Linked DNA regions of Homo sapiens. The protein of the gene in region 1 interacts with the protein of each later gene in a pairwise test. Each region holds a gene or a part of one and is shown on either strand. Other genes may lie near its edges.

Region 1 (3,279 bases):
GGTGGCCTCTAGGGGTGCTGACCAGGCGCCCTCTGCTGGGCCAAGCTCCAGGATTTGGGGATGAAGGTGCAGCTGAAAAGAGCCCTGCAAGCTGAAGCCACCGGGAGGGGATTAAGGGGGGGTGGGCAGGACCAGGGACCAGTCACAGGGCAGTAAGGCCTCACAGCAGGCACCCCAGGGCGGGGCAGCAAGCAGGCAGGAGGGGCCTCCCCGGGTGGCCTTCTAGGGAGGATGTACCCTGGCTGCCCAGCAGCAGCCCTGCTTGGCCGTGTCCCTGCCACAAGCAGGCAGGACACAGGAGGGATGGCACTGCCCACGGAGCCCTGGGCTCATGGCACCTTCTGCAGAGTGAGCCGGGAGCAGAGAGCCTCTTTTCCCCACTCTGTGAGGCCGGGCATTTTCCTCAGCCCTGCCCTAACCCCCACCATTCCTGTGATGGGCCCAGGTGCTAGACGGGCCTTGTCCTTGCCGAGGAAACCCATGCAGGCTGGGTCCCAAGCCTCTCATGCAGTTTCATTTTACCCAAGATGGGGCCAGCTTCCACTATGTTGATTGTTCTAGAGTGTTCACAGGCACCACCCATGGGCTTCACCCTCAGAACCACATTGATTCCCCCCAGAACCCTCCAAGGCAGGCTTCCCTTTACAGAGGAGGAAACTGAGGCAGGGACAGGGGCTTCTTGGGTACACACAGCTGTTCCTGGAAAACTTGGGCGGTGACTGTTGGTGCCTGCAGTGACCGGCCTTGTAGGGTCTGACTTGCAGCCAACTCTCAAGGCAAGGCCAGGCCCCAGCCCGGCTCCTTCAACAAGCAAGATTCAAAAGCTGACGTCTCCCAGAAGGCGGACCTGGAAGAGGAGCCCCTACTTCACAACAGCAAGCTGGACAAAGTTCCTGGGGTACAAGGGCAGGCCAGGTAAGGCTTGGGTGTTCCTGGGGTGCAAGGGCAGGCCAGGTAAGTCTTGCCTGCACCCTAAGGGCCCCATGACTACATTTACTAGGCTCACGCCCTGCAGTCAGCCAACTGCTCTGCCCCTAGCTCCAGGGGCCTGTCTCCTGGGCTCATGATAGCAGATGACGGCCACGCTCTACCCATCGGTGGGCGCTGTCTTCCTCCCTTCCCCTGGGGGTCCTGCAGAGTACCTGTGCTGACCTGAGCCCACGAGGGGGGCCAGTAGCAGCCCCTAAACCACTTCCTCAGAGAAAAGTAAAGTAATATTCTTACCAAGAGAAGGCTTGCTGCCCCTGGCCACAGCCTGCCTTTGGAGGGCACTAGGCCAGCAGGTCAGAGTAGGAACAGGTTCTGGTGATCCCTGAGTTTGCGGGACTGCCCTGAGATGCTACAGAGTGCACACTTTCAGCAGCGCAACCAGCAGGACAGGCTCCTGCATCTGCACATCCCAAGACCAGGCCTGGAGCAAGATGCCCCACTGGGTGTGGGGTCACGATCAAGAGCAGCCTGGCAGCTAGCTGGTCACCCACTGAAGCCCATCTGACCCTTAGGGCACCTTCAGAGGGGAGAAAGGGACAGGCCCCAGTCCCAGAGACCCCCACCTGGTGCCCAGAGCACCCTGCTCAGTGGGAGAGGGGAACCAGGCCCTCTTCCCCACATTGGCCTGGGCGCTGCCTGGGGAGGTATGCTGGGTGGGTGGTTAGACGCACCTGGGCAGGTCACCTCTGGCTGCTGCAATGACTGTTTCAGAAAGGAGAAAGCAGAGGCCTCTAATGCAGGAGCTGCCTGTATGGGGAACAGCCAGCACCAGGGCAGGCAGATGGGGGCGGGGGCACACCCCCCAATGATCCTGCCCCTTCCCCTGCGAAAGCCCACCACACTTAGGCAGTGCGAAGTGCTCATCCGCGAGCTGTGGAATACCAACCTCCTGCAGACCCAAGAGGTGAGGCCCTGGGTGGTGGGGGTGGCCCTGGGCAGTCTGGCACCGCCACAGGCCCCACCATGCCCCTGCCCCTGCCTTTCAGCTGCGGCACCTCAAGTCCCTCCTGGAAGGGAGCCAGAGGCCCCAGGCAGCCCCGGAGGAAGCTAGCTTTCCCAGGTGAGTGCCTGGTGCACCCCTGCCCCATCCCTGGGGTCCTATCCACAGCTCACTGCTGACTCTTCCTTCACCCAGGGACCAAGAAGCCACGCATTTCCCCAAGGTCTCCACCAAGAGCCTCTCCAAGAAATGGTAAGTCCCACAGGCATGGGGACAGTGGGGCAGCCCTGCAGCCTGGGCCCCAGGGAGGGAGTGGGGAAGGGAGGGTGGCAGCGCAGAAGCAGAGCTCGCTGAGGCCTCTCTGTGCCCCCGTGAGGGCCATGCAGGCCGCACTCCCCACACACTCCACTCCCGGGGATGCTCACGGTGACAGTCCCTCTACCCGCCCCAGCCTGAGCCCACCTGTGGCGGAGCGTGCCATCCTGCCCGCACTGAAGCAGACCCCGAAGAACAACTTTGCCGAGAGGCAGAAGAGGCTGCAGGCAATGCAGAAACGGCGCCTGCATCGCTCAGTGCTTTGAGCCACCCCAATCTGGTCAGTGCCAGGCCCACCAACCTGCAGCTGGAGACTGGCTCTCTATAGCATTTCCTGATACTTCCGCTACTTTTAGGCCTGGCTAAATTCCAAGACAGATAACACTCAAGATAGATAAAGTACTTGATCTCCAAACTGACAAACTGTTTATTTTCTAGCTGTTATTTTGCTATTTGGCATTTACATAAAAGCACACGATGAAGCAGGTATCGCCTTACCTGTTGAAACTGAAAATAAAGCTTGTTTATTTCCAAGTTGTGTGCCTGGCTCCTCACTGGCTATCAGGCGTCGCGTCCCTTCCCAGTCCCAGCCCTTGGCCTCTAGCCCAGGCCCTGCTGTCTGCAGGGACCTGCCTGGGCAGCCCAGTCTTGCGCATCCTGGGACCTGCCAGCGGCCCTGGGAGATAGGCATTGGCAGAGCCATGCACATCCTCCCTGGAAGCGGGAGGGCTTTTCTGGTCCCCTGGCTGGGCTGGAGCTGCGTTCCAAACACATGATCACTCTGTCTCTTGCCCACACTGCACACTCCTGGGGGCAAGAGGCTGTCCTCTCCTGCCCTGACACAGCACCGCAGACAGGGGGTCCAGCCAGGCTCGCCCTCCTCCTCGGAGGGCTGTCTCGAGTGCTGTGGCCATGCCCACACCACCCCTTCCGCCATAGCACAGCCATGTCCATGTCGGGGGTGGGGTGGCCAGCTTACTGCCCACCCTCAGCCAGCCACACAGTCTTCCCAGGCCCACGGCCCCACTTCGTTG
Region 2 (3,500 bases), on another chromosome or scaffold:
TACTCCTATTAACCAAGAAGATTTAATTGAGCTATAGTTTTTATATTTTTATTGTAGAGATAATACATTTCATATGCCTTCAAACTGTACTTTAAACTGTACTTTCAAACGATGCTTGCCCTTTTCCCCAGTTCTGAACCTCCTAATCATGGCTTTCAGATATGGCCTTTTCTTCTGTTCTGATTTAGAAAATCGAAAATTGAACTGCTTCATAAAGCACTAAAGGAGTTTTCCATTTATAGGATTGCTCACCTTCATTTTAAGTAATAAGTATTTCTTTCAATTACTTTCTCTAAATAAATATAGATTTTTGTATAAGTCTATTAAAAATAGTTCCTTATACCTATTCATTATAGAAAATTTGAAACATATAGATAATAGAAATTAGAGAAAAATCATCTATAGTTTTATAACCTAAAGATGACTATTGCTAAAAATTAGGTGAATTTTCTTCTATATTTTAATAAGATGAATTGCTTTTTGAGCACGTGTGCTCTTACAATTGTATTCTTACGAGTGACGTATTTGACTACTAAAAAGTTTGATTTTTGTATGCGTCAAAAAAAGTAAGGGCAAACACCAAATGTTATATATTTATATATATATAAATATCTAATATATATAATATATAAATATATAATATAAAATATATAATATATAAATATATATTATATAATATTATATAATATATAATATATAAATATATATTATATATAATATTATATAATATATAATATATAAATATATATTATATATAATATTATATAATATATAATATATAAATATATATTATATATAATATTATATAATATATAATATATAAATATATATTATATACTATATATAATATATAAATATATATTATATACTATATATAATATATAAATATATATTATATACTATATATAATATATAAATATATATTATATACTATATATAATATATAAATATATATTATATACTATATATAATATATAATATATACTATATTATATATAGTATATTATATACTATATTATATAGTATAATATAGAATATATTATATATTGTATATAAGATAATATATTATATATTGTATATAAGATATAATATATTATATATTGTATATAAGATATAATATATTATATATTGTATATAAGATAATATATTATATATTGTATATAAGATATAATATATTATATATTGTATATAAGATATAATATATTATATATTGTATATAAGATATAATATATTATATATTGTATATAAGATATAATATATTATATATTGTATATAAGATATAATATATTATATATTGTATATAAGATATAATATATTATATATTGTATATAAGATATAATATATTATATATTGTATATAAGATATATTATATATTGTATATAAGATATAATATATTATATATTGTATATAAGATATAATATATTATATATATATTATAAATATGTATATTTTTATATATTATTATAAATATATATATTTTATATATATTATTATAAATATATATTTTTATATATATTATTATAAATATATATTTATATATATTTATATATAAATTTACATGTGTTAAAAATATGATTGTGTTCTTGTATTCTTACAATTGTATACGTTTCCCATTTCCCACTTAATATGAAAAAAATACACTCATATGTAATGTTCTTAGAGACAACTTTAAGATGTTATTTTTAATGGCTGCATGGTAGTCCAGCTAGCTAGTAAGTATACCATATTTTGCTTAGCCAGTCACCTACTTTTAGACATTTGACTCATTCCATATTTTTGTTATTATAAATTCCATCAGGATGTATATTTCAGTACATTAAAGTTTCCTTGCATTTATGATTATTTCCTTAGAATGAATTTCCAGTGTGGAATTTCTAGGTCAGAAAACATAAACAGCTTAGGATTCTTGATATATACATGATCATGAGATATTTTCCCTAAATGGTTATTCCAATTTACATGCTCACCTGTAATGCATCAGTGTCCATTTCACCACACCCTCACTAGAAGTGGGTATTGTAGTTAAGAAAATTTTCCCTTGACATTTGGCCTGTTATTCTTTATTTTATATTTACACTCTATCTCTTTATTTTCCACATTTTATATTCCTTTGGTTAGTGACTGTCATTTTATATGGTTGTTAAGCTGTTGTATTTCCTCCCATGATTTGGCTTTTTGTGTATTTTTCTCATTTAACCAGTTGAATCATACTTTTTTTAAACACACTCTATGTGTATATATATATATGTGCACTAATCCTTGATCTATTGCAAGGTATCCTTTCGAAGTTTGGTGTTTGCCCTTACTTTTTTGACACATACAAAAATCAAACTTTTTTAACACATTGTAAATTTATATATATACTAATCCTTGATCTGTTGCAAGGTATGTTTTCTAAGTTTGGTGTTTGCCCTTACTTTTTTTGACACATACAAAAATCAAACTTTTTAGTAGTCAAATACGTCACTCGTTTTCTTTGTGTTTGATTTCTTCCTTGGCTAGAAAGTCCTTTCCCCTTGAGATATGTCATAAAACTTCACTGCAGTTTTTGTTTTAAATTACGGTTTTGTTAGTTTACATTTACCTCTTTAATTCCATTTGGAGTTGTATTTTGATGTGGATAAAAGATCTAATTTGATTTTGTTTCCAGATAGCTAGCAATTGTCCTAATATAATTTATAAATACAACTTCCATTCTTCATTGATTTGCTAGCCGACTTTACCATATATTAAATTCTTATATATAACAGTTACTGTTTCTGGACTATCTATTTGTCTCAATTGATCCATTTATTCTTGCACTGATAGCACTATAGTATGATAATGTTTTAATATATTTTAAAAATTATTTGCTATTCTTATCTGTTGGTTCTTCAAAATGAAATCTAGAATCATTTTATTAAGTTAAAAAAAATTCATTGGACCAAATGTTTTAGCTCTCACATGCCAGTGAGAACACATGATATTTGTCTTTCTGTGCCTGGCTTATTTCACTTCACATAATGACTTCCAGTTCTATTTACATTTCTGCAAATAACAGGATTTCATTCTTTTTAATGGCCAGATAGTATTCAATTGTATATGCATAGCACATTTTCTTTATCCATTCATCTGTTGCTGGACTCTTCTATATCTTGGCTACTGTAAATAGTACTGTGATAAATGTATGGGCGCAAGTATCCCTTTGATATATTGATTTCCTTTCCTTTTGATAGATACCCTGTAGTGGGATTCCTCAATCATATGGAGATAGAGAGTAAAATGATAGTTACCAGAGGTTGGGAAGGGTGGAAGGCGATGAAGAGAGGTTGGCTAATGGGTACAAACAGACAGTTAGATAGAAGAAATAGGTTCTAGTGTTCAGTCGCACAGTACGGTGACTATAGTTAACAATATCTTATGTATTTTGAAATAGCTAGAAGAGAGTACTTGAAATGTTCTTACATATAGAAATGATAAATGTTTGAGGTGATAAATATCCTAAATATTCAAATCCCCTG

What was found.
Region 2: the proteins of CCDC74A (region 1) and SH2D1A interact in a two-hybrid assay, tested with the Homo sapiens proteins (one large-scale study listed by BioGRID and IntAct).

What each region holds. Positions count from the first base shown.
Region 1 is NC_000002.12:131,530,888-131,534,166, forward strand, and holds the end of CCDC74A (coiled-coil domain-containing protein 74A), read left to right. Parts: intron 1-693; coding exon of another isoform or gene 694-719; exon of another isoform or gene 720-735; coding exon of another isoform or gene 736-776; coding exon 777-915; intron 916-1,701; coding exon 1,702-1,894; intron 1,895-1,976; coding exon 1,977-2,050; intron 2,051-2,125; coding exon 2,126-2,182; exon of another isoform or gene 2,183-2,187; intron 2,188-2,381; coding exon 2,382-2,511; 3' UTR 2,512-2,779; downstream 2,780-3,279.
Region 2 is NC_000023.11:124,349,563-124,353,062, forward strand, and holds part of SH2D1A (SH2 domain-containing protein 1A), read left to right. Parts: intron 1-3,500.